2 separate regions of the Homo sapiens genome follow, and region 1 is linked to region 2. Evidence: fine-mapped expression QTL. A gene starts in region 2. The other region holds a variant in brackets. All regions are shown on one strand. Distances are between the middles of the regions.

Region 1 (15,248 bases), 21 kb before region 2:
TTTTTAGTAGAGACGTGGTTTCACCGTGTTAGTCAGGATGGTCTCGATCTCCTGACCTCGTGATCCGCCCACCTCGGCCTCCCAAAGTGCTAGGATTACAGGCGTGAGCCACCGCGCCCGGCCGGAGGCCCGTCTTAAGGAGGGATTTCACCCTCACCCCTCACAGCCCCTCAGAGGAGGCTCGTCTTAAGGAGGGATTTCACCCTCACCCCTCACAGCTCCTCGGAGGAGGCCCATCTTAAAGAGGGATTTCACACATGCTGTCAGGCAGGGTCAGCCCCGAGGTCTGACCAGGTGGCAGCCTCACTGTGCCCGCCACATGTGCGTGGATCGAAGCTACCCAGATGCAGTCAGGGGTCACGGCTGTGCAGGCTGAGTCCATCTGGGCGGCACAGGCCTCCATTCTGCATCCCAGCATGGTGCAGAGCACAACCCTCTCGGCCACACCTCGGCGCTGCCGAGACCTTCCCCTGCTTTGCTCTCCTCCCCAGCACTGGTACAATCCAATGCCCCGCACCTCCCAGCCAGTTCTGTCTCTGCACTCTAGAACACAGGCCCCACGGGGGTCGGGATGCCTGCCACCTCCTCGTGCCTGGCTTGGCACGCAGCGGGTTCCGAGATGAGCCGACCCTCTTTCAGGTTTGGTAGGGCAGGTTTGCAGGCCCTACCAGAGAATGCATGTTTCTACAAGTGTGGGGAAGGACTGGGACCTGGCCTCCACCACCAGGAAGAGCAGCCCCCACGGCTGACAGGACACACCCCTACCCCAGGCGAGACACAGCGCTCACTCACCTCCAGGGAACATGGTGAGCGCCTGCTGTATCAGGAGAGAGGCCTTCTGCCTGGCAGAGCTCTGCTCACACTCAGGGAGGTCTGTCTGCTGGCTCAGCAGGAAATACGCCAGTGGAACAGAGAAGGCAAAATTAGGGAGCTGGGACAGGTTCCGATGAGCCTACGAGGGACGAAGAAACAGAGCGTGGAGCCTTAAGTCATAAAGACAAAATATGTGAGTTTGCAGACGCTCTGACATCACCAGTGAGCCCTACCCCGAGCAGGTATATTCTGCAGGCAACGCAAGGGCCTCTTCCTAACTCAGCATAAAGATAACTTAAAACGTCCACCTGGGGGGCTTTCCGCATGCAGAAGATACAGAGGACGTGGGAGGGCCTGAGAAGTAGACTGAGCCGGAGCGAGGACACCGTGGGGAGTGAGGGTCCCACCTGCCGCCCAGGCTCCTCTCTGAAGCTGAGCAGTTGGTGCTCTCAATGTGGAAAATTTACAGACGAGAGCAGCCCACCCCCGCGCGAGTCTGTGAGAGCAGCCCACTGCCGCGCGAGTTTCCGAGAGCAGCCCGCCACGCGAGTTTCCGAGCAGTCTACCACCGTGCCAGTTTCTCTTGCCTTTCTCAGCCTATGTCACATATTGTAGACATGTGACTCACTGCATTTTTTTCTATCAAAATGGGATCACAGACTCACAGTTTTGTGACCTTAAACACCATCATCAACATTCTTCTGCAGCCCCATTTTGGGGGACTCCCTGAGGTTTCCCTGCACCTACATTTTTGTGAGCTCCAGGAATTTCTATAAACCACATTCCTGGGGGTGAGACTTCCTGGCCAACTATGCCAAATGCTTAAAAATTCAAAATAATTTACCCACTTTCATTATCCATGAACATGTGCTATGAAAAAAATTCAACACAGAAGCAGAGAAAGTCAAGAGCTGTCGCCTTCTCCCCAGCCCCAGGCCCTGCTGGAGGTTAGCGTTACAAAGCCCGTGTCCTTCCAGATAAGTGCTGCCCCATAGGAACATAATGGGAGCCCAGGTGTCAATTTAAATTTTCTTTTTTTTTTTTTGAGACGGAGTTTCACTCTGGTTGCCCAGACTGGAGTGCAATGGCGCGATCTCGGCTCACCGCAACCTCCACCTCCCAGGTTCAAGCGATTCTCCTGCCTCAGCCTCCCGAGTAGCTGGGATTACAGGCATGCACCACCACGCCCAGCTAATTTTGTATTTTTAGTAGAGACAGGGTTTCTCCATGTTGAGGCTGGTATCAAACTCCTGACCTCAGGTGATCCGCCCGCCTCGGCCTCCCAAAGTGCTGGGATTACAGGCGTGAGCCACCATGCCCGGCCCAATTTAAATTTTCTGGGAGCTGCATTAAAGACAAAACAGGTGAGATTAATACGTTATATCTAACCCAATACACCGAAATTATCATTCCAACACGTGTCTGTGTTAGAGTTACTGGGGACAGAGCTCAAGTCTCTCCTGCTGTACTCACACTCTTCCCATGGAACAGGACAGACGTGCTGGGGGTCCCTGTGTCAGCCCCACGCAACCAACCCTCCTTCTACCTCCCGGCTGCATCTTCCTGAACTGCCCATGAGGAGCTCGGGAGTTGTCGGTTTTTCATCATTACCAGCATCACAGTCCTTGCAGGCACACGTGTGCATGTGTACACACGTTTGAGCATGTGTACACACGTATGAGGATTCTGACATAAGGCTGCTGTACTGTCCCTAGGAAAACCACATTCCACTCCGTAGAGGCGGCAAGGGAGACAAACAAGGCAGGAGGACGTGGTTCTGCCCTCAGACGATTATCGTTTCATCCCCAAACGTCCCCTGAGCGCACAGATACTGAACCAAGAAAACAGAAGGAGAAGCAGGTGTCCGTCCCTCCACGGGGCCTCACCAGGCTCGCACCCACCTCCCACTCCTGGAAGAGGCGGATCAGGTACTCGTAGTTCCGGGCCCGCAAGGCCAGGTGGTCGATGAGCAGCAGCATGCAGAGGGGGTCCTCATCCGGCTCGAGACTTCCGGAGGCAGCACAGAGAGCAGAGCAAAGGGGAACAGGGGCATCGTCAGGCTGAGAGTGGGCCTGCAGCCAGGACAGGGAGCGTGGACGGGCTTGGCCCTGAGCAGACACTCACCTCAGGATGAGCTTGCAGTACTCCAGCGCCGTGCGCGGGCAGCCTCGCTTCTCCAGGAAGCTCATCTGCTTGTAGAGGGCCAGGTAGAAGCTCCTAGATCCAAAATAGTTCCACATGAATTACAACGACACAAAGGAGAATGCTCTCTGCTCAGCGCCCCGGCCAGCACCCACTCCACCCCGCCCTCTGCTCAGCGTCCTGGCCAGTACCACCCATTCCACCCCACACACTGCTCAGCGCCCCAGTCAACACCCGCTCCACCCCACACACTGCTCAGCGCCCCAGTCAACACCCGCTCCACCCCACACACTGCTCAGCGCCCCAGTCAGCACCCGCTCCACCCCACACACTGCTTAGCGCCCCGGTCAGCACCCGCTCCACCCCCATTCTGCTCTCTGGGTTCTGCTGGCATTTTCTACGTGCCCAGCACACAGAGATCCATGTCTGGAGAGGAGGTGTGCGCTCTCCTTGTCCTTTACAGAGTTATACACGAATTTGCATACTGAAAATCAAACTTCTTTGAAATCTTTTTTTTTTTTTTGAGACGGAGTCTCGCTCTGTCACCCAGGCTGGAGTGCAGTGGCGCTATCTCGGCTCGGCTCATTGCAAGCTCCGCCTCCTGGGTTCATGCCATTCTCCTGCCTCAGCCTCTCCAAGTAGCTGAGACTACAGGCACCCGCCACCACACCCAGCTGATTTTTTGTATTTTTAGTAGAGACGGGGTTTCACCGTGGTCTCGATCTCCTGATCTTGTGATCCACCTGCCTCGGTCTCCCAAAGTGCTGAGATTACAAGCGTGAGCCACCACGCCCCGCTGAAATCTTTATCTTGTTTTTTTGTTTATTATTTATCATTTACAGGAAGAGAGTTAAAATCTCTTGTTACAATTACGATCTTAATTTATCCTCCAATCTCAACAGTGGCTAACAGCACTCAGGCTGGATACATGGAGCCCTGTGACTTTCGGATGCTGGTGGGCTGCTACTTCCATCAACAGCCCACTGTCTCTTTCGCGTCGGGAAATATTAATATTTTATAATCTACTTCAAAGAACTAAGAATTTCATTGGAAGAGACAAAACTAACATAAAGAAAACCAGTGGAGGAAATTCAGACCCAGCACACAGTGCAGACAATCTGTGCAGAACGGGTCAGCGGACCTTGGCTTGCCAGGAGGGCTGAGAGGGTAGGAGCGGATCCCACACTGCAGACAACCCAGGGCGGCCAGAGAAACAGGGCACTGCACACAGGAGAGGCAGGACAGCGGACAGAAGCTGGTCTGCTCCACAAAGGGCCCACAGGACAGGCTGCGGGAAGGCCTGGCGGAAGCCAGTCTAGGTCTGACCAGCGAGGCCTGATGCCAGAGGGATGGCTTTAGGGGCAGAAGTATCTGAAAGAAGAGAGACCTCCACATGCGGTCGCTCAGCACAGGGGAGCGAGGGTCAGGCTGACTCTGAGCTCCTCACTGATTTAAGGTCAAACCTGCAAAGCCTTCCAAAGCTTCTAAACTTGCCAGGGATGGGTTTTCTCAGCCAAACATAGAAGGAAATGCAATTGCAGAGCCCACTGTGGAGATCTGGTTTCTCAGGCTCACTTCTTCTTCTTCTTCTTTTTTTTTTTTTGAGAGACAAGGTCTCACTCTGCTGCCCAGGCTGGAGTGCACTGGTACCATCTCAGCTCACTGCAGCCTCGACCTCCTGGGCTCACTTGAGTGATACTCTCGCCTCAACCTCCCAAGTAGCTGGGACCACAGGCACGCGCCACCAGGCGCAGCTAGTTTTTAAAATGTTCTGTAGTGGCCGGGCGCGGTGGCTCACGCCTGTAATCCCAGCATTTTGGAAGGCCGAGGCGGGTGGATCGCAAGGTCAGGAGATGGAGACCATCCTGGCCAACACAGTGAAACCTCGTCTCTACTAGAAAATACAAAAAATTAGCCAGGCGTTGTGGCACGTGCCTGTAGGCCCAGCTACTCGGGAGCCTGAGGCAGGAGAATGGCTTGAACCCGGGAGGTGGAGCTTGCAGTGAGCCGAGATCGCGCCCCTGCACTCCGGCCTGGGTGACAGAGTGAGACTCCGTCTCAAAAAAAAAAAAAAAAAAAAAATGCTGTTTTGAGACTGCATGTTGCCACGGTGCTCAGACTGGTCTTGACACCTGGGCTCAAGCAACCCTCCCACCTCGGCCTCCCAAAGTGCTGGGATTACAGGCGTGAACCACTGTGCCCAGCCAGGCTCACTTCTAACACAAACATTTATTTTTATTTTTATTTTTTTAAGAGATGGGGGTCTCACTATGGTGCCCAGGCTGGACTTGAACTCCTGGGCTCAGCAGACCTCCCACTCTGACCTCCACAGTAGCATCAGGCATGTCCACAGACAAAGGTAAACCTGGGCTGAGACAATCCCATCCCTCTATCCTTAAGCCCAGAGAGAGGAAGGTGGGTCACTCTGGACCTGTGGGCCCTGGTCCACCCTGGAGGGCAGCCATGAGGTGCCCACTGCACCTCCCCCAGCCTCACTCGCAGGAGAAGGGAAGGGGAGCTGCGTCACCTCCAGGGCAGCTGCACTCACCTGTTCTCGGGTCTGCGGTAATCCAGCCGGCAGGCCCCACTGGTGAGACTGAACAGGGGGTGGAACGCACATTCCATGCTGTACAGCGCTCTCTCTGTGGGCACAGGGACGCCAGGGGAGGGTGTCATGGCCACACACAGCAACCACGGCCCCTCCTCTGATAATGGACAACAAGGAAAGGTCTGGACGGAAGGTCACGAAACTAGAGTCCTGGACACTGAGAGGGCAGACATGCCCCTGGGCACCCTGGATGCCACGCTGCATTTATTTCAACCACAGAACTTGTGAGCTTGACATGGTAACACTTTCAACACCATGAGGCACAACTGCTGCCACGTCCTGACAGAACCAGGCGTCCATGTGTGCAGCACAGATGTGTCCACCTAAGACTGCGTGTGCATGCTGACGTAAGCACTATTATTTACAACAGCCCACACGGCCGTCAACTAATGATGGATACACAACATGTGGTCCGTCCACACAGTGGAGTATTACTAAGCCATAAAAACGAACGACGTTCTGATCGACGCTACAGTGAGGATGAACCTTGAAAACTTCATTGTAAATAAAAGCCAGAGGGCGGGGCGTGGTGGCTCATGCCTGTAATCCCAGCACTTTGGGAGGCTGAGGTGGGTGGATCACAAGGTCAGGAGATCGAGACCATCCTGGCCAACACGGTGAAACCCCATCTCTACTAAAAATACAAAAAATTAGCCAGGTCTGGTGGCGGGCGCCTGTAGTCCCAGCTACTCGGGAGGCTGTGGCATATATTAAACACCAACAAACAAAAACTTTAAATGGGTAAGTTTTGTGCTACGTAGGTTGTATCTCAATAAAGCTGTCATGGATATCCTGGCAACCCCTGTCATCTTACACCATCGCATCTGTCTTGATAGCTTGAGGTGCTCCCACAGCTGAGGGGAATGGGGTGGGGGCTCTGCCTTACCTACGAGGTCTCGAGCCATCTCCTGATCCTCTTGAAAGCGGCAGGCATCGCTGAGCTGCAGGAGTGAGTCAACGTGGTAAGGGCTCGTCTGGAGCAGAACCTACCAGAAGGGAGGACAGCCCTGGAGGAAAGGCACTCAGCAAGGCCCCAGCTCCCAGGCATGCCTTTTTTTCAGACATTTAAAACCAGCGGAGGCTGGGCGCAGTGGCTCACGCCTGTAATCCCACCACTTTGGGAGGCTGAGGCAGGAGGATCACTTGATATCAGGAGTTCAAGACCAGCCTGGCCAACGTGGCAAAACCTGGTCTCTAATAAAAATACAAAAATTAGCCGGGTGTGGTGGCGTGTGCCTGTAATTCCAGTTACTCGGAAGGCTGAGGCAGGCGAATCGCTTGAACCCGGGCCGAGACTGCGCCAATGCACTCTAGCTTAGGCGACAGAGTGAGATTCCGACTCCAAAAACAAAAACAAAAACGGGGGAATTACCGGGTCGACACTCACAACGTCCCCCCAACTCAAAATAGGCTAGTTATTATTGCTAAGCTGAACCAATTATATGACTTAAAGCAAGAACTCAGAACCTGACATGCCCAGGCCAGGGGCCACCTAACTCCCCACTAAGCCCCAAGAAAGAGGAATGGAAAGCAGCAGCCTGCTTTTCCCACAGGGAGATGACGGGGAGCTCTGCGGAGGCTGTCCGGGGTTGCAAGGGGAGCTGTC[C/T]GGCGGCTGCGTGAGGGCCGCCCGGGGGCTGTCTGGGGCTGCGCGGGGGCCGTCCGGGGCTGCAAGGGGAGCTGTCCAGGGGCTGCATGAGGGCTGTCCAGGGTTGCACCGGGGCTGTACGGGGACTGTCCAGGTCCGGGGCTGTCTGGGGCTGCGCGGGGGCCGTCCGGGGCCGTGTGGGGGCCGTCCGGGGGCTGCACGGGGGCCGGGAATCTGAGCTGCTCGCCTGCACTGAGCCGCAGGAGGCAAGGGCAGCAGTGAGAAGCCCCAGAGTCCTGGGCCTGCATCACACGGCACTACTGCGACGGTCCCCAGGAACGGCTGAGAGAGCAGCGCTCCAGCCTCTCCTCTGAGTATGGATGGAGCTCGCTTGGCCTAGAGCCTCCGAACACATCTCCTTCTGGTCACAGGGCCAGACCGCCCTGCAGAGACTGGCACCCTTCCTGTTGGGAAGGGCAGGAGGCAGCATGCCTCCCCCAGCCACCAGGGAAGCAGGCGGCCCAGGGCAGTGGTGGCTACATGGCCCCTGCTCCTGTCAGGGGCTGCAGGGACCACGCACCACGATGTTGTTCGGCTCCATAGACTCCACGGCCACCAGGAACTTGTGCTGAGCCTGCTGGTACTCCTCACTGTGCTCAAACGCAAAGAAGGAGAGGCCTTTTTTTGATTCCAGCAGCCGCATGGACAGACCTGGGAGGGGAGAGTGCTCAGGGAGGGTGTGCCGGGAGCAGGGACGTGGGCAGCTCCGAGCACAGCCCTCACCTTCGTGGTGTTCTGGATGAGGCCTCTGCGATATCGACAAACTTGACCTGAGTGTGTACTCATGGGTGTCACCAGCTCCGGACACCTTCCCAAAACACCCGCCGTCTGGTCTACACCAGGAGACGGCATCCCGTCTGCTTTAGTTTCCTATCAAGACGTGTTTGCCTCCAGAACTCGGATACAGCTCTAGCCCCACTGGCCTGGAGGGAATGTCAGGGACAAGGACACACACAGTCCACAGATCGCCAGATCTGACCACGCCGAGCACTGTCCCCAGACCACGTCTGATTGAGGAGAATGTCCGGGGTGGCTGTGGAAGGACAGGGTTGGAGTGCGGTGGCACAGGTGGCCACAGCGCCAGGCCTCTGAAGCCACAGAGCTTTGTAACGTGTGACCACCCTCTCACTTGGCTCCTCTTGTCTGACTGGGTGTATGGGACCCAGTTTCTTCTGATAAACCTGGAAAGCTCAGCCTCCCAGGACCTCCATGGACTAGGTCCCCTGTAGTGATACCTTCTTGATGGCCCTGCCCAAGGCCCCAGTCCTGCAGGAATACATGGCCATGGAACCCCTGTCTGCAGTGAGCAGGGGTTCCTGCCAGGAAGGGAAGGGGCCGTGAGCAGCGGGGTTCACCTTCTGACAGCACAGGCCTCGCTCCTAGATGTGTCCTTACAGAATGTATGCAGGCAATCTCCGGCACCCCCACAGACACAGGCGCAGGAGAAGCGGCCGTGGGAGCCATGGCAGCGCTGACAGCAGCAGCCATGCCGATCACCAAGGGCACCACACAGCTCCCTTCCCACAAGCTGTCCTTGCCCTGGCCCCTGAGGGCCCCCACAGTTCAGCCACTGCAGAGTGGAGGCCAGTGTGGAAGGCCTCCTGACACTTCCCCACACCACACAACCAAGCACCCAACACTCCATGCCTGTCTTCACTGTTGCAATTCATCTTAAAATCACTTATTAGTTTGCAATAATATACAAAATATTGCAGTTTAAAATGAACTCGATTGCTTCCATAAGGGAAAGGTCGATGGCAGAATGGTAGGAAGAACCTGCGTTAAAAGACAGTCACACAAAGACTGTGCCTGGGAGGCTCCGTGTTGAGGTACTGGGCCAGGCCTCCAGCACTCAGGCCCTCAGTGTGGCAACAAACAGTCACACACTGCACACTCCTGGAGCGCTCCTGGAGCAAAGAGTCTCGGCTCAAGAGGCACTGACGCCCCTGGTGCCCAGCGCAGGCCAGTGCACAGAACACACCCCCCCGCCGCCCTCCACCCCCAGCAGCCTCTGCAGACCCTCACCTGGTTTGCTGTACCGGGGCCAGTGCACAGACAACGCCCCCCAACCCTCCATCCCCAGCAGCATCTGCAGACCCTCACCTGGTTTGCTGTAGCGGGGCCAGGTGCTTTTAGGGGTGGTCAGCCATGTGCACTTGGGGTACACACGTTGTCTCTGCCGTGGCCTGGGGAGAACGGGACACAGGTACAGCTTTACTTCCTGTGGCGTGTGGGGACCAAGGCTTGGCTGCCTGATCCCTGCACGGGCTGTGGAAGCAAAACTGAGGGGCAGAGAAGGCATGTGGGGCAGGGTGGGGACGCATTAAGGACAGGATGCAAACAAGCGTCAGCAACTGCTGTGGGACGGGTGCAGCAGGGAGGGCCCCATAGAGAGAAAGAAACAATTCTGGCTGGGCACGGGGGCTCACACCTGTAATCCCAGCACTTTGAGAGGCCAAGATGGGAGAATTTCTTGAACCCAGGAGTTCGAGACTGGCCTGGGCAAGACAGCAAAACCCCATTTCTACAAAGGGTTTTAAAAATTAGCCTGGCGTGATGGCCTGCACCTGTGATCCCAGCACTCCAGCCTGGACGACAGAGCAAGGCCCTGTCTCAAGAGGAAAATAAAAAAAGAAAACGAAAAGAAAGAGAACAACGTACTAATATCCACATGCCCATCACTCAACTTAAGAAACCAACCATCTCTGAGGTAACAGCAGCTCCATGCCTTTTCCATGCTGCCCCACCTGCCCAGCTCAGATACCAGCTGACCAGTGCTTAGAGTGGGCCTGACCCCTGTGGCAGAGACCCCCAAATAACAGAGGTCAGGGCACTCTGCCTGAGCACACAGGCACCAGACAGGTGGGGCGTGGCAGCCGCGGCAGCACAGACAGCAGCAGCCATGCCCACGGTCACCATCAGCACGGTGCAGCTCCCTTCCCACGGGGCCATCCCTGCCCTGGCCCCGGGCTCCCCACAGTTCAGCCACCGCAGAGTGGAGGCCAGTGTGGTGGGCCCTCCTGACATGAAGGTGGCCCCAGCCTGCTTCTCCTGCCTGTAGCACACGCCCAGGCCTAGGAGAGTCAGCCCTTCAGCACTCTCCTGGGCCAGATGTACAGAATCCCAGGGATGGCCTGACCTGCGGTGAGCTATCCCACAAAACAAGTAAGGAAGCCTCCAGAACAGACCCAACGAGGCAGCCTGGGCAGATGCCAGGAGGGGGCAGGGGACAGGAGCCTGGAGGAGCTCTGAAGGCTGGCAGGCGCCCTGAGCAATGGGAGGAGTGTGCTGAAGTGCGGGGGCGATGAGCTGACCGGGCTGTCGTAGTAGGAAGTCAAGGACCCAAGAGAAAGCAGTGCCTGTTATTCTGAGCTTCTGAGAGAACCACCAGAAGGAGAAATGGAAACAGGCCAGGTCTTTGTCTTGGAGGAGCAGGACAAGGAATGAATAAAAAGGAAACTGTGGCTTCTCCATGTAAGTCTTTTGGTAGGACTTAAATTTTTAAAGAAATAAATAAACAAAAAAGTTTAATAATACTATAAAAATAATAAAGGCAATTATTGTCAACTAATTACTACGAGTAATCAGTATTAACAGTTATAATACTAATTACTATTAATAATTATAATTTGCAGAAATAAAACCATGCAAAAATATAAAGAAATGACCAAGACAGACCAAGCAGATGCAAACAAAGGGTGGGACGAGGTGGAACCCTCAGCTCAGAGAAATGCAGATGACAAAGTGACATTTTAAAGTCTATTTTTAATTAATATTCCCGAAGAAACCCATCAACACCAAAAATGTAAAGTAAAATATAAAGCAAAACCTGTTAGAAATCCAGGGAAGGCGTGAACAACAGCATATGAAAACATCCTTGATCTACCCACAATCAAAACCCCAACACTTCTGCCCACACACGACGGCAGGTTTCCAAACCACTACCGTCGACTACGAGTAAGAAGGTGAAGGACCTGGGCAGACACTCAGTGTGAGCCACGTAACTCTACTGAAGGCACTGGCAGCATGCAGGATATATACTCATTCTTGGGCAGTTTCACAGAAATGCCTGCAGACACCGGGGACTGTAGCCAACATCTGGACACATGCTACCATTGGGGTGAGGAAATGACCTGGGTATACCATGGTGCAGAAACAACACTTAGGCTGGGTGTGGTGGCTCACGCCTGTAATCCCAGCACTTTGGGAGGCCGGGCGCAGTGGCTCAGGGCTGTAATCCCAGCACTTTGGGAGGCCGAGACTGGCGGATCACTTGAGGTCAGGAGATCGAGACCAGCCTGGCCAACATGGTGAAACCCCGTCTCTACCAAAAATACAAAAATTTGCCGAGCATGGTGGCACTCGCCTGTAATCCCAGCTACTTGGGAAGCTGAGGCAGGAGAATCGTTTGAACCCAGGAGGCGGAGGTTGCAGTGAGCTGAGATCGCACCACTGAGCTCCAGAGCCTAGGTGACAGAGCGAGACTCCATTTCAAAAAAAGAAAACAATGCTTAGAACTCAGACGTGCAGACCAGGCACGGTGGCTCACACCTGTAATCCCAGCACTTCGGGAGGCTGAGGCGGGTGGATCACCTGAGGTTGGGAGTTCGAGACGAGCCTGACCAACATGGAGAAACCCCATCTCTACTAAAAACACAAAATTAGCTGGACATGGTGGCACATGCCTGTAATCCCAGCTACTCAGGAGGCTGAGGCAGGAGAATCACTTGAACCCGGGAGGCGGAGGTTGTGGTGAGCCAAGATTGAGCCATTGCACTCCAGCCTGGGCAACAAGAGCAAAATTCTGTCTCGAAAAAAAAAAAAAAGAACTCAGACGTGCAAACCCAGGGCATGTTATAGACCAGCAATACTCTCCATGGTCCAATAAAACAGGATGTGTCTGGCTGGGCGTGGTGGCTCATGCCTGTAATCCTAGCACTTTAGGAGGTAGAGGGAGGAGAATCGCTTGAAGCCAGGAGTTTGACATCACCCTGGGCAACAAAGTAAGACCTTGTTTCTATAAAAAATAAAATAAAATAAATTAGCGGTGGCATGTGCCGGTAGTCCCAGCTATTTGGGAGACTGAGATGGGAGGATCACTTGAGGCCACGAGTTCAAAACCAGACTGGACAACCCAGCAAGACCCTGTCTCTAAAAAATAAAAAAATAAAAATAAATAAATAAAAAAAAGACAAAGCCTTCTGGACACTTCGATGGAGAGTCCAGAGGTGGAATATACCTCCTACATAAAGTCCCAGAAGCAGACACCCCCCCTGCTCTTCCTCCTCTAAGGAGCTGAAAGACCCTGTGCTCCCCATCGCAGCCAGCCATCCTCATCTGGGGCTGCCCAACTGCTAAGAACTACTGAATGGACACAGATGAAATTTATCTGGGCCGGGCGCCATGGCTCACGCCTGTAATCCCAGCACTTTGGGAGGCCAAGGCAAGTGGATCACCTGAGGTCAGGAGTTCGAGACCAGCCTGGCCGACATGGTGAAGCCCCGTCTCTACTAAAAAAAAAAAAAAAAAAAAAAAAAATTAGCTGGGCGTGGTGGCGTGCACCTGCAATCCCAGCTACTCGGGAGGCTGAGGCAGAATTGCCTGAACCCAGGAGGCGGAGGTTGCAGTGAGCCAGGATCACACCACTGCATTCCAGCCTGGGCGACAGAGCAAGAATCTGCCTCAAAAAAAAAAAAAAAGAAAGAAAGAGAGAAAGAAACTTATCTCAGAACCTGACCTTCACATTAGTTTTGCTCTGAGAAGCAAAACTAGAATCTTTTTTTTTTTTTTGAGATGGAGTTTCGCTCTCGTTGCCCAGGCTGGAGTGCAACGTCACGATCTCAGCTCACCGCAACCTCTGCCTCCGGTTTCAAGCGATTCTCCTGCCTCAGCCTCCTGAGTAGCTGGGATTACAGGCATGCACGACCATGCCTGGCTAATTTTTTGTATTTTTAGTAGAGACGGGGTTTCTCCATGTTGGTCAGGCTGATCTCGAACTCGTGAACTCAGGTGATCCGCCCGCCTTGGCCTCCCAAAGTGCTGGGATTACAGGCGTGAGCCACCACGACAAAACTAGAATCTTAAAATTTAACAGCTTTTGAAAACTTTTTTTTGAGACACGGTCTCGCTCTGTCGGCCAGGCTGGAGTGCAGTGGTGTGATCTCAGCTCATTGCAACCTCTGCCTCCTGGGTTCAAGCGAATGTCCCGCCTCAGCTTCCTGAGTAGCTGGGATTACAGATGCCTGCCCACCACGCCCAGCTAATTTTTGTATTTTCAGTAGAGACGGGGTTTCACTATGTTGCCCAGCTGGTCTCAAACTCCTGACTTCAGGTGATCTGTCCGCCTCAGCCTCCCAAAGTGCTGGGATTACAGGCGTGAGCACTGCACTCGGCATGGCTTTTGAAACCTCATGCTGGACAAGGCAGTGTGAGGGATGGAGACCAGCTACTCTGAGCATCTCTACAACCCACGGTCACAGACAAGGTTATACACAGACAATCTGTGGACTCCCATTCAGACCCCAATTCTAAGGGTTACGTGTGCACTCTGGCTTTAAATACTCTCCCTCAAGGGTAAACTAGCTTCAGGAACACCACCCCCGGCCAAGAGTCTAAGAAGGAATGAAGCAGCTGTGAGAATGCAGCTCACTGTGGACCTTACCTTTGCTCCCCCAGGATTGCCCGGGCACCAAAATACCTTTTCAGTTCTGTGTCTGGATTCAAGTGTCTGGGGAATTGAAAATTGTAGAAAAAAAACATGAAATTATGTTCTAAGACGATTCCAAAAGCTTCAGAAAGCCACCTAATAGTCAAGGAGAGAACACGGATTTTTGGTTTGAAAGGCAGCTTCCAGGCCTTTCTCTAAAATCACCACCCCAACCACAGCTGAGGCCTCGCCACTGCGGGCACCATGGGGAAGCTGCCGTCACTGTGCCGTGAGGGCGCTCGGTGAGTGCTGTGTCAAGAGGCACTGTGTGTGGCACACGTCTGTTTCTGAGGCTGAGTCGGGGCAGTGCACGCACCCTGGGACTACACTACTGCGTCTTAACTGACTCCACGGAGCTTTTTTTTTTTTAAGCTGGCAATAATTTCTGAAGTAGGGACAGCGATTCATTAAGCATCTGTAAGACCAAGAGATGAATTAATCATCCAAGGATGACAGGGTAAGGAGGAACTTTTTGACCAGACGTGGTGGTTCACACCTGTAATTCCAGCATTTTGGGAGACTGAGGCAAGAGAATCTCCTGAGCCCAGGAGGTCGAGGCTGCAGTGGGCTATGATCACACCACTGAACTCCAGCCTGGGTGATAGAGAGATCCTGTCTCTTAAAAAAAAGAAAAAGAAGGAACTCTCTAATATACATAAGAAGTAAAACTAGAAGTTCTCTGAAATATGGATGACTTCCTTTCCTCCTTGTTCCTATTTCCTTTTGTCGGGAGACAGAGTCTCGCTGTATCACCCAGGCTGGAGTGCAGTGGCGCGATCTCGATCTCGGCTCACTGCAACCTCTGCCTCCCGGGTTCAAGCGATTCTCCTGCCTCAGCCTCCTGAGTGGCTGGGATTACAGGCACCCACCACCACATCCAGCTAATTTTTGTATTTTTTTTTTCTTTTTTTTGAGACGGAGTTTTGCTCGTTGCCCAGGCTGGAGTGCAGTGGCACAATCTCAGCTCACCGCAACCTCCGCCTCCCAGGTTCAAGCAATTTTCTGGCCTCAGCCCCCTGAGTAGCTGGGATTACAGGCATGCGCCACCACGCCTGGCTAATTTTGTACTTTTACTAGAGATGGGGTTTCTCCATCTTGGTCAGGCTGGTCTCAAACTCCTGACCTCAGGTGATCTGCCCACCTCAGCCTCCCAAAGTGCTGGGATTACAGGCGTGAGCCACCGGGCCCGGCCTATTTCCTAAATGAGTAATAACAAACTCATATTATTATTATTATTATTTTTTTGAGACACAGTCTCGCAGTGTTGCCCAGGCTGGAGTGCAGTGGCACAATCTCGACTCACTGCAAGCTCCACCTATTGGGTTCACGCCATT
Region 2 (15,248 bases):
GGATCTACACCATCTCCAACATTCAACTAATGATGATGTCTCTTAGTGAAGCTGGGTGCTGGTTTACTTGTCTGTTTTTAGAGATAGGGTCTCACTGTGTTGCCCAGGCTGGCCTCAAATTCCTGTGGTCAAGGGATCCTCCTGCCTCAGCCTCCCCAGGAGCTGGGACTACAGGCACACGCCACAACACCCAATTTACTTTTTTTTTTTTCTTTTTTTGAGATGGAGTCTTGCTCTGTTGCCCAGGCTGGAGAGCAATCGCATGATCTTGGCTCACTGCAACCTCCGCCTCCCGGATTCAAGTGATTCTCCTGCCTCAGCCTCCCGAGTAACTGGGACTACAGGCATGTGCCGCCATGCCAGGCTAATTTTTGTATTTTTAGTACAGATGGGGTTTCATCATGTTGGCCAGGCTGGTCTCGAACTCCTGACCTCAGGTGATCTGCCCGCCTCAGACTCCCAAAGTGCTGGGATTACAGGCGTGAGCCACCGCGCCCGGCCAACACCCAATTTACTTTTATTAACTCATGCTGACTTCCTAAGAAAAAAAATTCTTATTTTGAGGTGTTTGACAAATCGAATTCATAAAAAGCTCTATGCCAAGCTGAACTTCAATGGAAAGGAGCCTGTGTACACGGACAGCACGCGTGATGGGCTCAGGAGCCTGCCTGTGTACACAGACAGCACACATGATAGGCCCGGGAGCCTGTCTGTGTACATGGACAACACGTGTGACAGGCTCTGAAGCCCATCTGTGTACACGGACAGCACGTGTGATGGGCTCAGGAGCCTGCCTGTGTACATGGACAGCACGCGTGATAGTCCTGGGATCCTGACTGTTTACAAAGACAGCACACATGATAGGCCCAGGAGCCTGTCTGTGTACACGGACAACACGTGTGACAGGCTCCGAAGCCCATCTGTGCACACGGACAACACGTGTGACAGGCCCCGAAGCCCATCTGTGCACACGGACAACACGTGTGACAGGCCCCGAAGCCCATCTGTGCACACGGACAACACGTGTGACAGGCCCCGAAGCCCATCTGTGCACACGGACAACACGTGTGACAGGCCCCGAAGCCCATCTGTGCACACGGACAACACGTGTGACAGGCCCCGAAGCCCATCTGTGCACACGGACAACACGTGTGACAGGCCCCGAAGCCCATCTGTGCACACGGACAACACGTGTGACAGGCCCCGAAGCCCATCTGTGCACACGGACAACACGTGTGACAGGCCCCGAAGCCCATCTGTGCACACGGACAACACGTGTGACAGGCCCCGAAGCCCATCTGTGCACACGGACAACACGTGTGACAGGCCCCGAAGCCCATCTGTGTACACGGACAACACGTGTGACAGGCCCCGAAGCCCATCTGTGTACACGGACAACACGTGTGACAGGCTCCGAAGCCCATCTGTGTACACGGACAGCACGTGTGACAGGCCCAGGAGCCCGTCTGTGTACACGAACAGCACGTGTGACAGGCTCTGAAGCCCGTCTGTGTACACGGACAACACGTGTGACAGGCCCCGAAGCCCATCTGTGCACACGGACAACACGTGTGACAGGCCCCGAAGCCCATCTGTGTACACGGACAGCACGGGTGATAGGCCCAGGAGCCCGTCTGTGTACACGAACAGCACGTATGACAGGCCCCGAAGCCCATCTGTGTACACGGACAACACGTGTGACAGGCTCTGAAGCCCATCTGTGTACACAGACAGCACGGGTGACAGGCCTAGTTTTGCTTCTTCAGTGAAGTTTTGGTGATGACACATGATTTGCTGCAATCTCTACTGCCATGCATCAGCTCTAAAATGCTGTCAATCACCGTCAGACAAACCTTATTACTGGCTGGGCGCGGTGGCTCACGCCTGTAATCCCAGCACTTTGGGAGGCAGAGGTGGGCAGATGGCGAGGTCAGGAGATCAAGACCATCCTCGCTAACACGGTGAAACCCCGTCTCTACTAAAAATACAAAAAAACTTGCCGGGCGTGGTGGTGGGCGCCTGTAGTCCCAGCTACTCAGGAGGCTGAGGCTGGACAATGGAGTGAATCCAGGAGGCAGAGCTTGCAGTGAGCTGAGATGGTGCCACTGCACTCCAGCCTGGGCGACAGCGCAAGACTCCGTCTCAAAAAACAAAACAAAACACCTTATTACCTACCCAAAAGCTGTGATTTTCATTAGTTTTAGGGTCTCAAATGGGGAACATTTCACAAGGTTCTTGTCCACGACTGATCTTCTTTAGGATAAAGCTCGATCAGCATTTCAGTTAATAACCAGGAAGGAGTTTTATCTTTTTTTAGGGGGAGAGGAAAATGTCCATTTTTCCTAAAAAAAAAAAAAAAAAAAAAAAATGGTGATTTTTAATAGAGACGGAGTTTCACCATGTCGGCCAGGCTGGTCTCGAACTCCTGACCTCAGGTGGTCCACCCGCCTTGGCCTCCCACAGTGCTGGGATTACCGGCATGAGCCACCGCACCCAGCCTGAGGTTGTCTTTTTTTTTTTTTTGAGACAGGGTCTCACTTTGTCACCCAGGCTGGAGTACGGTGGCGTCATCTCACCTCACTGCAGCCTCGACCTCCTGGGTTCAAGCCATCCTCCCGTCTCAGCCTCCCGAGTAGCTGTGACCACAGGTGAGTGCCACTATACTTGGACAGTTTTTTTGTATTGTTTGTAGAGATGGGGTTTTGCCACATTGCCCAGGCTGGTCTCACACACCTGAGCTCAAGTGATGGATCTGCCTTGACCTCCCAAAGTGATGGGATTACAGGTGTCAGCCACCAACCCTAGCCTGGAATGTTTTATACTTTAAAAAATTCAGTATCTTTAATAGATAAAAGGGCTCAGATTTTTTTATTTCTTCACATGTCAATTTAGATAAGTTTTATCTTTAAAGGAACTTGCCCATTTGTCTAATCTGGAAAATTTATTAGCAAGAAGTTCCTTATCGCCCGTTACTATCTGCACCATCTGTACCTGTGAACACTCCTCTCCCATCCCTGAAAATGGTAACGTACCTGGACCTTCCCTTTTTCCCTCCATCAGTCAATCTAGAGTTTTTGCCAACTCGTCTTTTGAGAGAACCAAGTTTCGGTCTCACCGATTCTCTCCATCGTGTCCATACTCTATTCTGTGCATTCCCCTCTTTGATTAGTTTCTTCCTTCGACACATTTTGAGTTTAATTTGCTCTTTTTCTAGTTTAAGGTAGAAGTTTCAGGTAAATTTCTAGATTTTTAAACACTTTTCTAATTTAAAATTTACGATGATAAAGTTCTAATCATCGTTTCAGTTGCATCCCACAAATTTTGATAGGTTGCTATTTTCATTACCAATCAGTTCAGAAAAGATTCTAGGCCAGGCATGGTAGCTCACATCTATAATCCCAGCACACTGGCTTTCAAAAAAAATTGAAAAAATTAGCCAGGTGTGGTGACACCCACTTATAGTTCCACCTACTTGGGAGGCTGAGGTGGGAGGATGGTTTGAGCCCAGGAGTTCAAGATTACAGTGAGTTATAATTGTGACATTGAACTCCAGCCTGGGCAATAGAGCGAGACTCTGTCTCCAAAAAACCAAAACACACACACACCCACACACAGCAAAAACTGACAGGGTTGAAAGTAGAAATAGACAAATCCATAATTATTATTACGATTTATTTATTTATTTATTTATTTATTTTTTTGAGACAGAGTCTCGCTGTATTGCCCGGGCTGGAGCCTGGTGGCACAATCTCAGTTCATTGCAACCTCCACCTCCTGGGTTCAAGCAATTCTCCTGCCTCAGCCTCCCAAGTAGCTGGGATTACAGGCACCCACCACCATGCCTGGCCAATTTTTTTTTTTTTTTTTTTTTTTTTAGATGGAGTCTCGCTCTGTTGCCCAGGCTGGAGTGCAGTGGCACGATCTCAGCTCACTGCAAGCTCCGCCTCCTGGGTTCACGCCATTCTCCTGCCTCAGCCTCCTGAGTAGCTGGGACTATAGGCTCCCGCCGCCACACCCGGCTAATTTTTTTGTACTTCTTTAGTAGAGGCGGGGTTTCACCGTGTTAGCCAGGATGGTCTGGATCTCCTGACCTCATGATCCGCCCACGTCGGCCTCCCAAAGTGCTGGGAATACAGGCATGTGCCACCACGCCTGGCCCAATTTTTGTATTCTTAGTAGAGATGGGGTTTCACCATGTTGGCCAGGCTGCTCTCGAACTCCTGACCTCAGGTGATCTGCCCACCTCCCAAAGTACTGGGAGCTGCAATTCCAGCACTTTGGGAGGCCAAGGCGGAAGGATCTCTTGAGCCCAGGAGTTTAAGACCAACCTAGGCAACATAAAGAGATCTTGTCTCTAAATAAATAAAATTTTTTAAAAAGAGAAACACCATGTCTCTCACCAATGCATTCACATTCATAACCATTTAGTCGTAACTGGCTGTTTACTGTCTCCCATACTTCTGTTTATTAAGAGCTATTTAACAGAATGCCAATAAACATTTTGATTATATTATTTCCAAATATGAGTTTTAAGAGCAAAAAAGTATGGAATGCTTAAATTAAGACTGATGTGTGCCACTGGATAAAATTCTCTGAAATTCCTAAGAACACAGCACGATAAGCAGTCATTCATCCATGGAGGCTGTTAGTGTTACTGACACTCAAACTCACTCCAGAAAGTCCACAAGGGTTTGTGTGGTTTCTGACCTTACAGACTCTTACTCTGTCAACTCATGAACCACACTTTTTCCAAATTCCCACCAACACAAATATAAATACCAAAAAGATTAAATATTTAAATGGGAAAAAAAAAGCATTAAAAGAACAAGCTGAGCATGGTAGGGTATGCTGTAGTCCCAGCTGCTCAGGAGGCTGAGGCAGGAGGATAACCTGAACCCAGGAGTTCAAGACCAGCAACCAGCCTGGGCAACACCGTGAGACCCTGTCTGTAACCAAAAAAAAAAAAAAAAAAAAAAAAAAAAGCCAGGCGCAGTGGCTCACGCCTGTAATCCCAGCACTTTGGGAGGCCGAGGCAGGCGGATCACGAGGTCAGGAGATCGAGACCATCCTGGCTAACATGGTGAAACCCCATCTCTACTAAAAATACAAAAAATTAGCCAGGCGTGGTGGCGGGCGCCTGTGTTCCCAGCTACTTGGGAGGCTGAGGCAGGAGAATGGCGTGAACCCAGGAGGCGGAGCTTGCAGTGAGCCGAGATCATGCCACTGCACTCCAGCCTGGGCGACAGAGCGAGACTCCATCTCAAAAAAAAAAAAAAAAAAAAAAAAAAACTCACGTCAGGGAATATCTATGTGAAGACACTCTAGAGAGATGGATGTGTAACAATGAGAAAAGTGGCTCCAGTATCTTTCAGCACGCAGAAATTAAAGAAGTTAAAGAACAAACACAAACCGAGAAAATACGTTAGAGACAATCGATAGCAAGCTTCCACGAGCAAAAAGACTGTCCAAACCCCCTATAAAAAGGCAAAGATATAAACAGGTTGTCACAAAGAGAAATATAAATGGTCAACGAATACATAGCTAGGTGCTGCATTTCACTACCAAAGAAGTGTAAAATAAAATAATGTGATATCATTTTTCACAAATTACATTGACAAAAATTTAAAAAGACTTACGGGGCCAAGCACAGTGGCTCATGCCTCTAATGCCAACACTCTGAGAGGCCAAGGTGAGAGGACTATTTGAGCCCAGGAGTTCAAGGTTGCAGTGAGCTAGGATTGTGCCAATGCACTCCAGCCTGGGCAACAGAGCAAGATTCCATCTCAAAACAAAAAGCTTTCAGTAACTGCTGTGAATCTAGCAAATTACTGAACCTTGACGGGGGTCTTGGGGACCACTAAAGGTGGACTTGATGCGAGAAGGGCAGTCAACCAAGCATGGTGACTCACGCCTGTAGTCCCAGCACTTTGTGAGGCTGAGGTGGACAGATTGTTTGAGCGCAGAAGTTCTAGACCAGCCTGGGCAACAAGGCGAAAACTCTTCTCTACAAAAAAGAAAAAAAAAAAAAATTAGCCGGGCGTGGTGACATCCACCTGTAGTCCTAGATACTCAGGAGGCTGAGGTGGGAGGATCGCAGAGCCCGCAGAGGCAGAGTTACAGACGGAGGCCAGGGCTTAGGAGAAAACGTCACAGGACCGCATGAGCAAACCATACAGTCAAACTGTTACTTCCCTGTGCCAGAAACGAGCTGCCGGAGATGCAGCAAAGAGTAAGACTAATCCGCTGGGTTAGGCTGATGGGGATGCGCGAAGAGCAAGGCCCTGGGTTAGGCAGAGTTGTTGTGAGGATTAAAGCAGAATGCTCGCAGAGGCCTGGCAAGTCCTCAACCCTGGAACCGAGAGAAGGCCCCTCTAGACTCGAGAAAGGGAAGCCCCACCCGACTCCTGCCCCTACGCCGTGGCCCCACCCCCACGGTGGCCCCAGGCCTCATTTAACCCCGCCCACGCCATCGCCTCGCCACCCCCCCGTCTTTAGCCACGCCCTTTAGCGTCACGGCCCCACGACAGCCACGTGGCCGCAGGCCCATTTAATCCCGCCCACGTCGTGGCCCGGCCCCGCGGACGTTGGCCACGCCCTTGGCATCAAGGCCCCGCACCCTCCACAACCCGGACCCCGCTTAACCCCGCCCATTCGGTCGCCCCGCCCCGACAGCACGGCCCCGCCCCATCCCTTAGCCCCGCCCACCTCACCGGGGTTAGAACCCAGTCTAACTCCGCGGCCCGCCGTCTTCACCCCACGCCACCGCCCACCCGCGTCGCCCTGGCCCCGACGCACGGCCCCGCCCTCCCCACTGCGGCTGGGACCCACGTCACCCTTCCCACCCCTGGCATCACAACCCCGCTCCCCGACCCGGCTGGACGCTCGCCCCGCCCCACAACGTCAAGGGCCACCCCACCCCCACCCGGGCCGCCGCGCTCCTCACCAGCTCGAAGCGGTTGTTGACTCGGACGCCCTCCTTCCCTGCGCCCCCGGGACGCCGGACACCAAGCTCCCGCTTGGGCCCTTCTTCTTCCGCGTCATCGTCATCACGGAGATCGAAATGCAAGGCGCCGGGCCCGAGGGGCTCCTGGCCGCGCTGTTCCCCCCTCAGCCTCCGGAGGGCCCGGCGCGACATAGGACCGAACGACCACGACGTCTGGAGAGAGGGAGAAGGAAGCGCAGAAAACTCGGCTGTCGGCGCGCCTGCGCACTCTTCGCGCGGGGTCGGGGGCGGGGGAGCTGGCTGCGCGCCTGCGCACTCTTGGCGCGAGGGGTGGGGGCAGGACCTGGCTGCGGCGCCTGCGCGTCGCGGCTCTCCGGAACTTTCCCGCTTCAGCGGCGGCGTCTGGGCGGGCTCCGGGGGGTCCGGGCCAGGTCTCTGGAGAGCTGGGTGTCTGCGCGCCGTGCGCACCGGGCATGGAGAGGTGCCCCGCGGGGATGACGGGCTTCGATTCGGGGTAACGGGCGCGCAGCCGGCGACAGTCGGCCCTGCCCGGCCTTGCCCATCCATGTGGCCCGGAACCCGCAGCCGCGTTCTGCCCGCCGGGGCCTGTCCCCGCACCGTGCCTGCAGCATTTCAGCTGCGTCCCGGACGTTGCTAGTTGGTCCTTTTCGTGTCAGGGTGTCATTCGAGTGATCTAGCCGTCGATGCCCGCCTCTGCCCTGGAGCCGCCGCCCCTCGAGCAGCATTGAGTGACGCGGCCCTTACTGCCCGCCCGAGGCCTCTTTAGGGACAGTGGTTCTGACAGTTCTAGGACAGGCCGCCCGCGTTTGTCACGATCTAAGGGCCGGGCGCGGTGCTCACGCTTGTAATCCCAGCACTTTGGGAGGCCAAGGTGGGCGAATCACCTGAGGTCGGGAATTCGAGACCAGGTTGGGCAACACGGTGAAACTCCCTCTACTAAAAATACAAAAATTAGCTGGGCGTGGCTGCGCACGCCTGTAATCCCAGCTACTCGGGAGGCTGAGGCTGCAGTGAGCCGAGATCGCGCCACTGCACTCCAGCCTGGGCGACAGAGCCAGACCCTGTCTCAAAAAAATGAAAAAAATAAAGTAGATGAGGCTGAGACAGTGCTGGGTTCAGTGGGCGGAGGGCACAGCTTCCTGTGCCTGGGGTTGGGGACATGGGGACAGGAGGGCATAGAGAAGACAGGTGCCAGCAGCCTCCTGCCCGACTTACTGCGGCTTCATGAGCACAAGCAGCAGCCCTGGTGAGCCGGCCTGGCCCCTCCCAGGATGGGTTAGGGTTTTATTTTATTTTGTGAGATGAGGTCTTGCTCTGTTGCCCAGGCTGGAGTGCAGTGGCGCAATCTCGGCTCACTGCAACCTCCATCTCCCAGGCTCAAGCACTTCTCCTGTCTCAGCCTCCCGAGTAGCTGGGACTACAGGCATGTGCCACCATGCCCGGCTAATTTTTGTACTCAGTAGAGATGGGGTTTCACCATGTTGGCCAGGCTGGTCTCGAACTCCTGACCTCAAGTGATCTGCCCACCTCACCCTCCAAAAGTGCTGGGATTACAGGTGTGAGCCACTGCACCTGCCGTGGTTTAGGGTTTTAACGTGGGCTTTCATTTCCAAGTGTTCCTGTATGAATTACAACCCAGTCTCCCCATGATAGGGAGTGTGAGTCCCCGTAGAACCAGAACAACCGTCGTCCTTACCAAGCACTACACATTAGCTTATTGCTGGCTGTGTGACCGGAGGAGTTCCCTGACCCTCTCTGTGCCTGTTTTCTTATTTTTAAACAGGAATAAAAATACAGGCCAGAGAGTCCGTGAAATGCTTACACGCATGCTAGAAGCTGGCTGTTTTTACTGGGGGCTCTAATTTTGTGTGTTTGGATTTCCTGGACCCCAGCTGACAGGAGTATTTTCTCCCGCAGGCCCATCAGTTACAAGTCCTGTCCCTTCTGACCTCCAGGCCCCACGGCTAGCATTACAGCCTGGAGTCAAAGTTCTGGGTGAGCTGTGTATCTTTGGCCAAATTCTTTGACCTCGTTGAGCCTCAGTTCCCTCATCTGTAAGGTAAGATGACGGCAGAACGTCACGGAGGAGCAGGGCAGGGCCCCGTTAACAGGCTGAGCCGGGCGCAGGTGAGCAGACAGCACTCGGCACAGGGCCTGTCTAGAGCCTGCAGTCACACCTCCTGCCCCTGTGGATCCTCTCCCTGGAGAACGAGAATACGGATCTGGGAAATGAGACCAAAGTACCCCCCAGGCCAGCAGGTGTGGCCAGAGGAGCTGATGGGCAGTAGTCTGTGCCGTCCGCATGCAGCCCTGACCATGGTGGCCAGGACCACGAAGCTGGTAGAGGCAGCCAGGGCTGCGTGGACAGAGCAGGCCTGGAGCCCTTGCCTGGTGGGCACCTGACTCTAAGCCAGGAGGCCTTTCCTCGTCCTGGAAGGCAGGTGGCCCCTCAAGCCCAGCTTCAACCTTGGGAGAACATGCCATGCTGGGTGAATCCTCAGCGCACATCCCAGACAGAAGACTGTGAGACCTCCTTTATTAGGCCAAGAGTGGCCATGTGCACAGATTTACAGAGCTGCTCCTCCCTGTGCCAGGACCGCCCAGCATCTTCAGGAGCCTCTGGGCCAGGGGCGAGTGAGGACAGCACCAGAATGTGGTAGGGCCAGGAGAGGCAGGACACATGTGGTTTGGACCCCAGGGAAAGGGAAAGGGCAAGGGCAGGGAGCAGCTTGGCACGGACCTTTTTTTTTTTCGAGACAGAGTCTCGCTCTGTCGCCCAGGCTGGAGTGCAGTGGTGCAATCTCGGCTCACTGCAACCTACACCTCCCGGGTTCAAGCGATTCTCCTGCCTCAGCCTCCCCTGTAGCTGGGATTACAGGTTCCTGCCACTATACCTGGCTAATTTTTGCATTTTCAGTAGAGACAACATTTCATCATGTTGGCCAGGCTGGTCTCAAACTCCTGACCTCAGGTGATCCTCCCTCCTCGGCCTCCCAAAGTGCTGGAATTACAGGCCTGAACCACCACGCCTGGCCAGACCTTTCAAACAGGTGGGGGTGCCTCCCAGGAGGACCCTGCCTACTCAGAGACTTCCCAGATGCCTCTGCTGCCTGAGTCCCCACAAAGGGAGAGCAGAGGCAAGCAGGGCACTCTGGTCCAGCTGGGAGCCAAGATACCCTGTCCCCACCTAGACGTCCACTGGGGAAGGGAAACTGCCGTTCGCATTCCTGGGGACGGAGAAGAGCATGGGAACATGGGATGCAGTCTGTGCCAGGATCTAGAACCTTCTGCTTTCTCTCTTCAGTGAGAAAACCCACCCTGTTCCCTCCCCTTCCTCCCTGGCAAGGAATCCTGAGAAGAAACAGCCTCCCCCAGGGAGGGTTTTGAAGTGCGCCTGAACCCAAATGAGCTCTGGGGCCAGGAAACAGTGTATATAAATATATAGACTGTGTGTATATATTATAAATGTATCTATATATGTATATATGTACATGCACAGCTCAGAGCGTCCTAGCCTGATACAGGGCCTGCCTGGTGCCTCCTGGAGGCCTGGCCACCTGGGGCTGTCACTTGAAGTCAAGAGTCCTGGTGTTAGGGATGTAGAGGGATTGGGTCTGGCGACTGCGTCGTGGCGTAGTGTTGAGGACGTCCACGCTCTTGCGGCTGGAACGCACCACGTCTGCCACAAAGCTGGTGCACTCACTGCAGACATCCTTCAGGACACAGCCGTGGGAGTAGATGTGGGGGAACGCCTCCTCCACGCTCTGCCACTGTGGCCCTTGCAGAGACCTGGGAAGTGGGAGAGGGCACTCAGGGAGAGGAGCCAGCCAGGGTGCCACACCCCCCTCCCTGCTTGTGCATGCCACAGCCCCCTCCTGGCTGCCTTTCACCCTAGGCCTCCCCTTGGCCCTCAGGCAACAAACACAGCTAGCAGTGTTCATCTCAGCAGACTGTTCCCTGACCACCCAAGTCCAGTTTCCATCTCATACTGCTCAGCCTCCCAGAGCCCTACACAACGATCCGTCTCTGCCTTGCATTTCCATTTCCTTGGGGTGTCCTAGCAAACAGACAAAGCCAGCCCCCTCCACCCCAGCTCCCAAGTTCCTCTTCACGCCCGACCACCACAGTGACATCAGCAGCAAGGCGAAGAACGCACTGAAAGATGTCTCTTCTCTGGATTGGCGCGGTTTTGGCAGCTGATACCCTCTGAGGACTCTCAAAGCCCAGTGTGTAGACAGGGATGTGTCCAAATTTCTTAGAAGGCATCTTCATCTGCAGCACAGAGGGAGGAGGTATGAACCAGGCACCACCAGAGACATTCAGGTACACTCAGTGCTAGGGGACCTCCCTCCCCAGTCTGGGACCTGCGTGGCAGCCAGGGCTTCCTGGAGAATATTCTCTGTCCCTGTGCTCTCCGATGTCTCCTCTGTGCCTTTTGGCTGAAGACTGGCACGGGGTTCCTGCTTGCTGCACATCTGGACAGGGGCTTCTTAGAGCGCAAGAACCGTCCCTTTTTATACCATGCGGGACCTGCCACGTTTCCTGCTCATCTGGACAGGGGCTCCTTAGAGGGCAAGAACTTTCCCTTTTTATACTATACGGGACCTGCCACCTTACCCTGCACATAATCAACATTTAACATGGATGAGGTGGAAGTTTTTCCATTGCCAAGTGGCAGGATGTAGAGTAAGATTTAAAAATAGTGGTAGTAAGAGTACTCCTTAAGCAGAGTTTTGCTTCTGAACTGAGGCCTGAGGGGTAACATATATATATATATATATATATTTTTTTTTTTTTTTTTTTTTTTAAGACACAGATCTTGCTCTATTGCCCAGGCTGGAGTACAGAGGCACAGCCATACTCACTGCAGCCTTGAATTTGCTGGGCTCAAGAGATCCTCCCACCTCAGCCTCCCAAAGTGCAGGAACTGCAGGCATGAGCCACCGCGCCTGGCTGGTGACATACTTTTATTTGTATTTTGTCTTTTTGAGACGGAGTCTCTGTCACCCAGGCTGTAGTGCAGTGGCACAATCATAGCTCACTGTGGCCTCCACCTCCCGGGTTCAAGTAATTCTCATGCCTCAGCCTCCTGAGTAGCTAGGATTACAGGTGCGTGCCACCATGCCCAGCTAATTTTTTTGTATTTTTAGTAGAGATGGGGTTTCACCATGTTGGCCAGGCTGGTCTCAAGTGGTCCGCCAGCCTCACTGGCCTCCCAAAATGCTGGGATTACAGGTGTGAGCCACCGTGCCCAGCTGACATACTTTTAAATGTTAGGATCCCTTTACCTCTGTGCACCTGCACATAAGCACACACCTCAACTGCAATAAGAAGCCCCTCCTAAAACACCCAAAAAGTTATAGAATGTAAGAAGGTAGGACTTTTAGAGGGGAAGTGAAGGGTTTTTTGGCACGAGGCTACTAACGTGCAATGTTTAAAAACAAAAACCTGTAAGGGTCTTTAAAAACTGCACACTATCTTGGAAAGTATAGGAATGGATTCTGCCTGAAAGGAAATGGATGAGGTGCCTGGTGAGGCAGCATCATCCAACACATCCAATCAAAGCCAGTGGAGCCCCTCATCTGCCTTGCTCAGACCCCAGAGATCCCACATGGTCCTCACCTTTATGCTACAGGAAGTGCAGACGGCTCTGGAAGGGAACAGAGGAAATGCAGCATCAGCAGGGAGGAAGCCCACAAACAGCTGAGAAACAGTCGCATCCCGGCCTCCACGCATCCGAGGTCAAACCATCCTTGCCTTCTGCCTGATGCTTGGTTACTTCAGTACTTTATTTTACTCCAAAATCTTGCTTTTCTTTATACTTAGGTATCCACCCAAAATATATGTGCTCCTTGGCATTCTCTCAGGAAGGATGGCTCCAGGAGTTTTCTCCTGCCAAGTTTTCTATTGCCAAGTGGTAGGATATAGAGTAAGGTTTAAACATAGTGGTGGTGGGCCAGATGTGGTAGCTTACGCCTGTAATCCCAGCACTTTGGGAGGCCAAGGCAAGTGGATCACCTGAGGTCAGGGGTTTGAGACAAGCCTGACCAACAAGGTGAAACCTCGTTTCTACTAAAAATACAAAAATGAGTTGGGCGTGGCAGCAGGCACCTGTAATCACAGCTACTTGGGGGGCTGAGATAGGAGAATGGCATGAACCTGGGAAGTGGAGGTTGCAGTGAGCTGAGATCACGCCACTGCACTCCAGCCTGGGGGACTGAGCGAAACTCTGTCTCAAAAAAAAAAAAAAATGGTGGTAAAAGTCCCTCTTAAGCAGATTTTTGTTTCTGAACCAAGGCATGATGGGTCTTTCTGAACCAAGCCATGATGGGTCACATACTTTTGGAAAGTTTAAAAACAAAAACCTACAAGGGTCTTTAAAAACTGCACACTGTCGGCCAGGCGCGATGCCTCACGCCTGTAATCCCAGCACTTTGGGAGGCCAAGGCAGGTGGATCACGAGGTCAGGTGTTCAACATCGGCCTGGCCAAGATGGTGAAACCCCGTCTCTACTAAAAATACAAAAAATTAGCCGGGCATGGTGGCGGGCACCTGTAATCCCAGCTACTCGGGAGGCTGAGGCAGAGAATTGCTTGAACCCAGGAGGCGGAAGTTGCAGTGAGCCGAGATCATGGCACTGCACCGCAGCCTGGGTGACAGAGAGAGACTCTGTCTCAAAAAAAACAAAAAGCAAACAACAACAACAACAAAAAACAAAAAAAAAACTTGCACACTGTCTTGGAAAGACATCTAAGATTCCTTCTAAGAAGACGTGTAGACATTGGTGTGTACCTGACACTACTCACCATAAAAGCACCATGGAAGCTAGAGGGGCCTCAACTGAGATGCTCAGTTTTAAACAGTGATTCAATTTTGTTTTAATTCCCATATCTGATTTCAAAAATAAATACCTTCTTATAAAAAATTCAAGGCTGGGCGCGGTGGCTCAAGCCTGTAATCCCAGCACTTTGGGAGACCGAGATGGGCAGATCACGAGGTCAGGAGATCGAGACCATCCTGGCTAACATGGTGAAACCCCGTCTCTACTAGAAATGCAAACAAATTAGCCAGGCCTGGTGGCGGGCACCTGTAGTTCCAGCTACTCGGGAGGCTGAGGCAGGAGAATGGCGTGAACCCGGGAGGTGGAGCTTGCAGTGAGCCGAGATTGTGCCACTGCACTCCAGCCTGGGTGACAGAGTGAGATTCCATCTCAAAAAAGAAAAAAGAAAAAAAAAAAAATTCAAGGCTGGGCGTGGTGGCTCACCGCTGTAATCCCAGCACTTTGGGAGGCCAAGGTGGGCGATCACCTGAGGTCGGGAGTTGGAGATCAACCTGACCAACATGGAGAAACCCCATCTCTACTAAAAATACGAAATTAGCAAGTGTGGTGGCACATGCCTGTAATGCCAGCTACTCAGGAGGCTGAGGCAGGAGAATCACTTGAACCTGGGAGGCAGAGGTTGCAGTGAGCTGAGATCGCGGCATTGCACTTCCGACTGGGCAACAAGAGTGAAACTCTATCTCAAAAAAATAAAAAAAAAAAATTCAAACATGAGAGAATTAAAATGTAGACACCACATGCTCAGAAGTGATCCCTGCTAGTAATGGTTTCCATCCTCCAGGCTTTTCCAAGCATATATCAACAGAAATATACATAATTTTACAGATAAAATTAGGTGATTTTTTTTTCCCAGACAGGTCTTGCTCTGTCACCCAGGCTGGAGTGCAGTGACACCGTCATAGCTCACTGCAGCCTTGACCTCCTTGGCTCAAGTGATCCTCCCACCTCAGCCTCCCAAAGTGCTGGGATTATAGGCATGAGCTACCATATCCACCATATCCAGCCTTACCTTTTTTTTTTTTTTTTTTTTTTGAGACAGTCTCCCTCTGTTGCCCAGTCTGGAGTGCAGTGGCGCGATCTCGGCTCACTGCACCCTCCACCTCACAGGTTCAAGCAGTTCTCCTGCCTCAGCCTCCCGAGTAGCTGGGACTACAGGCACCCGCCACCACGCCCAGCTAATTTTTTGTATTTTTAGTAGAGACAGGGTTTCATCGTGTTAGCCAGGATGGTCTCGATCTCCCGACCTCGTGATCTGCCAGCGTTGGCCTCCCAAAGTGCTGGGATCAAGGTGTGAGCCACCGCGCCCGGCCCAGCCTTACTTTTTTATTCAGTCTGGGAAATTCTAACTTTTACTTGGGTCGTGTGGATGACTTACAGTTAATGTGATGCGAGATACAGTTGTGTTTAAGGCTGTCATTTGCTATTTGTTTTGTTTTTGACTCA

The links.
Region 1: its variant is fine-mapped to the expression of TCF25 in whole blood (TOPMed, PIP 0.96).

What each region holds. Positions count from the first base shown.
Region 1 is chr16:89,886,339-89,901,586 of GRCh38, reverse strand. TCF25 (TCF25 ribosome quality control complex subunit) reads right to left here. Exons shown (of 18, transcript NM_014972.3): 5 at 13,870-13,935; 6 at 9,312-9,394; 7 at 7,729-7,859; 8 at 6,450-6,549; 9 at 5,504-5,597; 10 at 2,938-3,030; 11 at 2,715-2,820; 12 at 793-952. Among named protein-coding and RNA genes, the nearest start is that of TCF25, 20 kb to the right of the region's middle. The variant C/T (reference allele first, on the strand shown) is at 7,170.
Region 2 is chr16:89,865,555-89,880,802 of GRCh38, reverse strand. TCF25 (TCF25 ribosome quality control complex subunit) reads right to left here and starts at 7,211. Exons shown (of 18, transcript NM_014972.3): 1 at 6,944-7,211. The coding sequence starts at 7,135. It overlaps SPIRE2 (spire type actin nucleation factor 2), which reads right to left. Exons shown (of 15, transcript NM_032451.2): 13 at 12,587-12,614; 14 at 11,121-11,236; 15 at 9,484-10,753. The coding sequence ends at 10,531. It overlaps LOC112268179 (a long non-coding RNA gene), which reads left to right and starts at 7,315. Exons shown (of 2, transcript XR_002957933.2): 1 at 7,315-7,835; 2 at 8,882-10,426. RefSeq lists enhancers at 629-1,298, 7,567-7,726, 7,497-8,453 and silencers at 6,427-6,896, 7,367-7,486.